Linked DNA regions of Homo sapiens. The protein of the gene in region 1 purifies or fractionates together with the protein of each later gene. This does not show direct contact. Each region holds a gene or a part of one and is shown on either strand. Other genes may lie near its edges.

What was found. The genes of interacting proteins can lie anywhere in the genome.
Region 2: the proteins of DSG3 (region 1) and OLFM4 purify together in Homo sapiens (co-immunoprecipitation; one large-scale study listed by IntAct). This does not show direct contact.

What each region holds. Positions count from the first base shown.
Region 1 is NC_000018.10:31,453,213-31,458,204, reverse strand, and holds part of DSG3 (desmoglein-3 preproprotein), read right to left. Parts: intron 1,766-4,992; coding exon 1,730-1,765; intron 1,213-1,729; coding exon 1,081-1,212; intron 1-1,080. UniProt on the Homo sapiens protein: A component of desmosome cell-cell junctions which are required for positive regulation of cellular adhesion. Required for adherens and desmosome junction assembly in response to mechanical force in keratinocytes.
Region 2 is NC_000013.11:53,034,410-53,039,401, reverse strand, and holds part of OLFM4 (olfactomedin-4 precursor), read right to left. Parts: coding exon 4,902-4,992; intron 1-4,901. UniProt on the Homo sapiens protein: May promote proliferation of pancreatic cancer cells by favoring the transition from the S to G2/M phase. In myeloid leukemic cell lines, inhibits cell growth and induces cell differentiation and apoptosis.

The sequences.
Region 1 (4,992 bases):
CTGTGGCCACATGATAGTGTTAAAATGTTAAAAGAAAGTCAAAGTCATTTAATATTGACAAGGCTACTCCTGAAGGCTCCCTCTTTACCTGACAACATTAAAAAACAAAAGATATTTATTTAGTTTAAATAGGGGGAAGTGGAGAGACAAAAAGGGAAAGAGATTGTATGGTAGGGTTAAAATATGTATTAAAATAATTTACTTATTATTATTGTAATTTTAAAGCTTTTTAACATGAAAAATGTGAAATATATGTAAAGTTAGAACAGTATAACAGGCTGGGCGTGGTGGCTCATGCCTGTAATCCAAGCACTTTGGGAGGCCGAGGTGGGCAGATCATGAGGTCAGAAGTTCGAGATCAGCCTGGCCAATATGGTGAAACCCCGTCTCTACTAAAAATACAAAAACAATTAGCCGGGCATGGTGGCACACGCCTGTAATCCCAGCTACTCAGGAGGCTGAGGCAGGAGAATTGCTTGAACCTGGGAGGAGGAGGTTGCAGTGAGCTGAGATCGCGCCACAGCACTCCAGCCTGGGAGGCACAGTGACTCCATCTCAGAAAAAGAAAGAAAGAAAGAAAGAAAGAAAGAAAGAAAGAAAGAAAGAAAGAAAGAAAGAAGAAAGAAAGAAAGAAAGAAAGAAAGAAAGAAAGAAAGAGAAAGAAAGAAAGAAAGAAAGAAAGAGAATAGTATAATAAACCTGATACATCCTATCACTGAGCTTCAACAGTTATCAATACATGACCAATCCATATTTTGCTCCCAACCATTTCTGTCTTATACATGCATTATTTTTCCTATTTGTTTGCTAGACTCTGTATCCAAGTAAGCCTTCTATATTAAAATTGGTCAATATGTCTCAATTCTTTGTCTCAATTCTTTTTCATAACCCTAGAAGCTACCTTCCTTTCTCTCTTTCTCTCATTATTATTATTATTGTACTATTTTGTTGAGGATACCAGTTCACTTGTTCTGTGGACTCCCCAGTCTTCATTTTGTTATTTGGAATTGCCGTATTATTTTAATTTACACCTTATACATTTATTCTAAAAACTCATACGCTCCTGTTGATATAACTTACCTTGGCAATTGGGTTTCTTTTTGAGTTATCTTCTCCTTCTCTGCAGGGTTTGGCAAATTTCACCCATTCACGTTTTTGCCTTCTTTTAGCTTGTTGCATAGTCATCTCTTCTTCATCATATTGACCTTTAGTCTTATGTAAAAAGGGATTCCATTTGTTATGGAAATTAATGGCAATTTTTGCTTAGAATATTGATTACAGACACCTAGTTGAGGAACCCCCTATGTTTCAAGATCACTAAGACTGTTAGGTATCTAATTAGCTCTACCTGATACTTTGTCAAGCAAGTAATAAATGTTAAATAACTAAAATAACTACAAAGCTATGTGATTTTTAATATTAGCATTTAGTCGTATTTTATATTTTCTTTTTATACTCCACAGTATCTTACTGGGCCCATAGGGTTTGACCAGCTGATTTGTTTAAGATAAGAAGAAAAGAATGCATGAAATAAATTATAATAATGACATTTATGGATGACTAGTTTTAAAATATTGTTATCAGTTATTAGAATTTTAATTTTATATATTTTCACAATTAAATTATTGAATAATTTTAGAAATTAAATATTCATTTCTACTAAACACAATTTAATTTTTTTTTAAACTAAACTATTATTTTAAGTACAAAAACCTTTTTCATACTTTACCTCTATTCGCAATTCTCCATGAACCAATATGACCACCTGCAGACATTTAAATAAAGTCGAATTAAATGTGAATTCTTCAAATAAGGAATTATATACAATGAATAATCCTGATTATTATATTCTATTGTTCATATTGTGATTTGTTTCTATTTCAAAAGAAGTAAGTTTCAAGAAGCCATAATCAAAGGGTAAGTTCCTACCAGGAAAAGGAATATTACTGTCAATATAAACACATTCCACCAGTTTTTTAATTGACTACAGAATTTTGATGACATAAAGAAGAACCTATTGGACTTTGCAAAAACTATGCCTAATAGTCAGTTGCAGCAACCACACAATTCTTACCTGGCTGCTTTATACACCGTTCCTGGAAGCTATGAAAGTCATTGCTTTGGGAAACATTGGTAAGCACCATTGTGAAATGCTTCAGAAAGGGGCCACAGGGGATTATTAAAAACCTTCAGCCACCCAACTGATTTGTAGGAAGGCAATCCTGTATTAGTCCTCTACAATTACAGAACATTTTCTTTAATTGTACAAGTGAAAAGAATGGAATGGAACCAGTCTGGTTTAGAGAACAAAACGTAAAAGATGAGGATATGCTATTCCAATCACAAACCCTGTTTGCAGTGAGACATGGATCTGTTCATCTCTGCTCTATTACTTCAATTTAAATATTGAACTTAATTTTCAGAGTGGCCCCAAAAAATTAAATGACAGTAAAATGAAGCCATGTAGGCTAGGGTCTTCACCTTCTCAAGAGCATATGAGACATTCATCTGTGTCATTTTTCATCTTCTGTTCTGCCTGGCATGCATTACCTCTTTCTACTCCACCCACTTAAATATTGCTCATCCTTCCAGATCCATCAAGTTCCAACAACCTCCATGAAATTGTCTTTACTGATGTCTCTTTTTCTGAGTTTGTACAACACATATTCTGTACCATGAAATTTAGCCCATGATGGTTTACCACAGTTTATTATTTCTTGTTTTATGCACATGAAAGAATTTCTGTGCTAAGCCAGGAGTATTGTAAACTTTCCAGTTCAGTGCTATTAGGTTATTTTTTTTTTCTTGTAACCCTCACAGGTGCTTAACAAGTATTTGCTAATCCACTGATTATCGGATGAATCTGGTCGGAAAATAATGGTGGAAAATAAGTCAGAAGAAAAAAAAAACTAGAAGAGTAATAACAGTAGCTAATGTTTATTGTGTAGTTTCGGTATCAGCTGCTACTCCTAGAGCTTTATACTTACTGTTTTATGTAATACTTACAGCAGGCACCTGAAGGAGATTCTAGTATTATAATCCCTAGTATACAGATGAAGAATTGGAGATGCAAGGGAATGAATACTTTGCCCTAGCTAATGGCCATAATAGGATAGCGACCGCAGTAGCCTAACTCCAGAGCATGTACCTCACTACTACTAAATTCTTTTTTTTTTTTTTTTTGAGACGGAGTTTCGCTCTTTTTGCCCTGGCTGGAGTGCAATTTTTGCCCTGGCTGGAGTGCAATGGTGCGATCTTGACTCAATGTAAGCTTCGTCTCCCGGGTTCAAGGGATTCTCTTGCCTTAGCCTCCCGAGTAACAGGGATTACAGGCATGGGCACACCACCACACCCGGCTAATTTTGTATCTTTAGCAGAGACGGAGTTTCACCATGTTGGTTAGGCTGGTCTCGAACTCCTGACCTCAGGTGATCCACCCGCCTTGGCCTCCCAAAGTGCTGGGATTACAGGTGTGAGCCAACTACTGCTAAATTCTAACCAAAGTTGTCATAAAGAGAAAAAAAAAAAAAACAAACTAATGGTACAAAGAAAATTATATGACAGTCAATTTAGATTTCTATTTGGCAAAAGACTATGGTTGCTCTTGAAACAATGTAGATTGTTTATTTTCTAGGGTTATAATGAATAGACTAGTCCAAGTCTGAACCAAATGAGTAATTATGTCAGACATAAGATGTCAGGACTCTTCCCTTCTAGACATTCCAGCTGAAACCTTGATTCCAAAGAGTGCGTGTTCAAATTTGTCATGGAAAAGAACCATTACTTGTGGTTATAACATGTCTCAAAATTATTTTCCAACATTGTTGCTCTTTTTAAAGCAGTACCTTGAGTTACTTGGTAGAAAAGACCAGATAAATGTAGTAACTGCACAATTCCTTTCTCAGCGCATAAAAATGACTCAGCTACACATGAGAGGAGGGATGGGCCAGGCAGGCTCCCCTTTACAGGAAAACTGGAGAGTCATCCCGAAAATATGAATCATGCTTGGACTAGCCCTACAGAGAATGATTCTTCTAATACACAATAAGGTAGAATATTTGTTTTCCCAGGAAGTAGGTGATGGGAAACATTTCTGAATATTGCAATGATCTTCAGATTTTTAGAGGACAGCACAGCCTTACATTATTTAGAATAGTATTTTTTTAAAAAAATTATTTTAGTTAATATTTATATAATGGCTACTTGTTTTAGTTAATTTGCTAATATAATAATTTTGGACATTTTAAAAACAATTTATGTGTTTTTATTTGTAAATCTATTTTCATTGACAAAATTGTATATATTTATCATGTACATGTTGTTTTGAGATATGTATAAACTGTGGAATGACTAAATCAAGCCAATAAATATTTACATAGTTTTCTGACGATTTGAATGAACTAAGTTGTCTCTTTTGGTGGCCTGGATTGGAAATACCAACATGGAGAAAACCTCCCTTATCTTGAGAATTACTGTACTTTTCTTTCTTTTTGTTTTCTGGTTATTTTGTAAATTTTAATTATATGATTTTTAAAGCATTGATATAGCCTTAGTGCCTTGGTATAGATATGAATTACAAATATTATCAAAAGCAAATCTAATTATTAAATTTAAAAAATATATGAAATAAAGCAATTTGATATCCATATGCTCTATTTGTTAATAAAAATGTATATGGTTGTATCACTAAGGTTCCTATTGAATATGGTATGTACACAATAAATATAATCTGAGGATATGGGTAGCTAGATTAAACAAAAAGCAAGTATAATAGCACCTGCTCTTTAGTTTGGCCGAGATCTTGTTTGGGGTTACCTCATGCTTTAGTGTGGCAGGGGACAGAACATAAGACTATGGATTAGATGCAGGTAGCTCATCCCAGCCAGGCCTAGGGCCTGACTACACTTCTGATTTCTAGAATGGGGATTCTTGGGGAAATTTGTAGAATGAATTAGATAATTCAAATAAATCAGTCCAAATTTTAAACATGAT
Region 2 (4,992 bases), on another chromosome or scaffold:
ACTATATATAAAACCTAACAAGTCCCCCTGAGAAGTGCACTGCAGATATAGGGCTGCCAGGTTCCAGTGTCTACAAAACTCAGGCATAAAACCTTGACTATGATAAAAATAAATAAAGTGCCAATCCATTACAGAAATGGAAGTTTGAGAAATAAATATGCTTGTTGGCATTTGGCCTTGCCAGCTCTTGGAACAAATGAAACACCCTCAGCTTCTCTGGAACATTTTGGTGGCACATCGCAGCTGTTGTTCTACAAAAATGAGTGATTCAACTGTCATCTCTGCTAAATAAAATGTGGTTCTCCTAGATTTTCACAAAAAAAAGCAAGGCATATTCTGGAGTTTGTTACCTATAAAAATGTGTGGTGTGCCTGCCCTGGTGCAGACAAAATGAAGGGTCTGTAAAGATCCATTTGAGGAAAAAACTCAAGGTTCTTCAGCTGACACTTAAAGGATGCTCAGTGGTGTTCAGGAAAATGGCAATCATCCATGGAGTTAGAGAAGACACAAAAGAGCTTGGGGATGGGCCAGAAAGACTTCAGAGTGTGAACTTTACTAATTTAAGTAAATCATTCATATGAACTTTTCACATATATGAATCTGTAGCTTTGGGAATGCGTGGACAATGCTGACCACATGTCAGCTCCTCCTGGGAGGTGCAGTCTTGGGAGAGGCAGCCCAGCCTGCCTGGGAGCCTCCAGTCCCACATCTGGCACTTGGGGCACTTTCTGCATTTTTTTCTTCTTCTGGAAAATACAGTCATTTGCTGCATAACATTTTTGTCTATGACAGACTGCATATATGACAGTGGTCCCATGAGATTATAAATATCATATTTTTACTGTACCTTTTCTATGTTTAGATATATATGCACACACAAAAACTTACCATTGTATTATAATTGCCTACATTATTCAGTACAGTCACAGGCTGTACAGGTTTGTAGCCTGGCAATAGGCTATATCATATAGCCTGAGTGTGTAGTTGGCTACACCCTCTAGGTTTGTGTAAGTATACAATGACGTTCACCAATGTTAAAATCACCTAACGATGCATTTATCAGAACATGTCCCTGTCTTTAGCTGACCTATGGCTGTATTTTGATCTAGAAAAGTGGTTCTAAATGGAGGGAGGGCGGTAGTGGTGGTGATTTTGTCCTGGTTCTCATAACTGGGGGGTGGGCGAGTGCTATTGGCATCTAAAGACCAGGGACGCTGCTAAACATTCTATCAAGAATATGGGTCTAGCCTTGAGGAGACACGTCCTGTGTCAACATCTTTATCTCGAAGCTCCTCATCATGACAAGTCTGAGCACTAGATGGCTCATCTATGTTTTAGTTGAGCCTTTAAGCCACCAGCCTAACATTCACAGCTTCCATTTTATTTTGCTTGTTATGCACATACTATATCATTGATGAGGAATAAAATTTGTGTGAGCGTTGATTTGAGGGTGCCTGTTATTGTTCCTTATAATTAATGTGGTCTTGTAATAAATAAGGGTGTAGTGCTAGCAAGCTAAAGAATTAATCTGGTTCATGTTTCTGCCAGTCTCTCAAAACCTGTGATTATAACTATGGCCAGACTATTTGAAATAAGTACGTTTACTTTGCAACATACTACTATTTTCAATATATGTTTCAAAGTAAACGTAACAGGGTTCATTGAGCCTGGAGTGATTGTAAAGACATATAAAGTACTTTGGAGCTAGACCCAACTAGACTCAAATCTAACTTCAGTACTTAGTGGGCAAATCACTTAATTTCTTTAACCCTTAGTTTCCTGTAAACTGGGGGTAATGATACTGAGCTTACAAGATTATCATAAAGACTAGAGATAATGTACGTTAAGTGCCTAGTTAATGGAGGCCCTATGAATTATAGAAATTAATAGAGAAACAGTAATTTCAGCATTTTCCAATCTGACCTTTTAATTTATTATATTTCACTATACAAATACGGCTCAATCAATGTTATTTCTTTATGGGTTGCCTTAATGTCTCCTAGGCTGCCTCAACCTTCCCGTGCATGAGGATCTACTAGCAAATGTGTCATATTAAATAACTCATGCCAAAGACCATAAGCCTCCAGAGAAAGAGAAAATCCTGAGCTGCCTTTTGTGCCATCCCTTTCCTAAGTATAGTCACAAAAGGACATACCGTAAACAACAGAAAAGTATAAAATGCTTTCAGCATCTTATGCAGAGGCAGCTCCCTGTCTTCTCTGTGTACTGACAGACAATGAATCAATGTAAGGCAGTCAAAAACCTTTTCTACTGGCCTGTCCTAAACGGGCATTCTCCCAGGCCCCCGGATAAATGACAATTTTCAAGGCAACCTAGGGACAGCTGTAATAACTCACTTGGAAATTCGAAAGCCCTCAGCTAAAGGGATAACTTTGGATTTGAAGGCATTACTACTGCATCTCTTCCTGGGCCTACCTTGGAGGATGCTAACAGCATGGCCAAGAGGAAAGAGAGTTGAGATGATTTTGAAGACTCGAATTCTGACCTGGCTTAACCAGCCAAGAGAGGAATGACCTTGGGCAAGTCTCCTTACCTTTATGAACTGCAGTTTTACTGTCTCTAAAATGGGAGAGACAACACCTGGCCTATCTGCCTTAAAGGGTTACTTGAGAGGAGAGAATAGAACTGGAAGCATTTGAAAAAGCACAAACAAACTGCTACTATTATTGTTGTTATTATCACCTGTCACACTAAATCGATTATATAAATCCTAGCTAGCAGATAAACTTTTTTCTTAGGCCACAATCACAGTTTTTTTGGGATCAGAGCAGCCACCGACACATTCAGAACTAAAACTTTCCCACCTATTCTGCACTTCTTCCCTATCTGTCATTAGCAAAGCAGATGTTACCAGCCCCCCGTACAGTATTGGAATTAAATGTCCCATATTCACAAACCTGGCAAGCCACATACTCTCCCTGGAGCACATAAGGTTTCAAACTGCCTTTCACACTGCTGCCAGCAAAGACAACATGTAAATCAGTAGTTTCCACTATTTCAAAGCAAATGACTCTAACTGAAAAGATCTTTACCTAGGATTTTCCTCTACTTGTTATGTTTTTATGCATAACTTCTTATCTGTACTTGATTATGCTGGAATAAGGCTATGAATATTAATGGTTAGAATTTATAATTTAATGCTGTGCCTTTTCCACTGATTAATTCAAGGACATTATATTTCTTAAGCAGCTAGGTTTCTAGAGTAGTCAAACACATTTTCCTGGACACTCATTTAAACTTAGAATATTTATCTACCAATTCAGGCTGAAAGTAGGGTCTCAGCCTCATCATAATTTTTGTTTTAAAGGATAACTATGTTGGATGTTGAGGTGGCAAAGCTCAAATTTCTTAGGAAAACTTATTCTGAATCTTGCAGTAAAGCCAGAGCTCCTTGTAAATTAATGGAGTTGTATTAAATAATGCATAATGTGATTATAGACTAGCTTGGACTTCACCTGTGCAGAAAATAGGAACTTTTCTAATTGATTTTTAACTTGGGCTGAAAAGGTGGAAGGAGTCAAAACTAGAACACCAAGTCACATTGCTCCAGCCAGCCCAGAGAAAGGCAAACCCTTTAAGATAACTTCCTCTGGCTAAAGAAAAAAACAGTAATCAGAGTTCAAGTCAGTGTTTTTACCAAGGCTGAGAAACCTATTAGTCTTGATTCAAATTCCCAGGGAAGCCTTCAATTTTTGTCTAATATTGGACACATCAAATGTAATGTTCCTGCTGAGACAATAGAAGATAACCATCAAGAAAGAGATGGAGGGTGAGGATGGAAGTGGGGATAGTTAAAGGGTAAAAAATAAAAGTAGTTAGAAAGAATAAATAAGACCTAGTATTCAACAGCACAACAGGGTGACTATAGTCCATAATAATTTCATTGTACATTTTAAAATAAGTAAAAGAGTCTAATTGGATGGTTTGTAACACAAAAGATAAATGCTTGAGGGGATGGACACTCCATTTTCCATGATGTGATTATTACGCATTGCATGCCTGTCTCAGGGTATCTCATGTACCCCATTAATACATACACCTACTATACACCAAAAAAAAATAAGATTAAAAATAAAGAGACTACAACCTTGGATTTCACTTGGAGAAAATAGAAAAAAATAAAAGAGACTACAACTTATTGTCACAAAAAAAGAGAGTGAGGGGGAGAGAGAAGGAAGTGAGCAATTTGTAAAGATAAAAAAGGGTTAAAGGAAAGAGAGAGGGAGGGAGGAGGATGAGAGGGAGAGGATTTGAAGGAGTGGAAGTGGAGGAAGGGAAAAGAAGGAGGGAAAAAAAGATCATCTAAAAGTAAGAAAATACCCAAAAATGTCCCCCCCAAAAAAGAATTAACCAGGAAAGGAAAAGAGAGATTAGAAGGGATGAATAAGGGCAAGGATTGAGGCAAGAGAAATAAGAAACTAAAGGATGCAGGAATGGAATAGAAATAGAAGAAAAGGAAAAAGAGAAGGGAGATAGAATAGAACTAAAGGGGATAGAGGAGAAGAAAGAAAAGAAAGCAAAGCTTGAGGAAAGACCTAGAAGACCAAAAGGAAGAAGCAGCGTCAAAACAAAATAAAAATTGCAGGTTGGGGTTTGCAAGGAGAGCTCAAGGCTTCTTTCCAACTGCCTAAGTACCACAATACTATAGTGAGTTTATCCACGGCGTGAACAATTTGAACCCCACTTTCTTCCTGTGCTCTCATTTTCCCTGCCTTAATAAGAACTCCATTGGTGTCCTATAAAATAAATACTAAAATCACCATAGAATAAAAACGTGATGTCTTTGATAGTGAAGAATGATTGCTTATAAAATCCTAAATTAAAACACATTTTGTTTTGTTTCTCTTTATCAAGATATTGTTTGAAAAGAAAATGCTTACTTTGGAAAGTTCTTTCTCAAACTTCTGAGAAAGAACATGAGCTGTGAATTCCAAGCGTTCCACTCTGTCCACGGGAAAGGTGGTGTCTGGC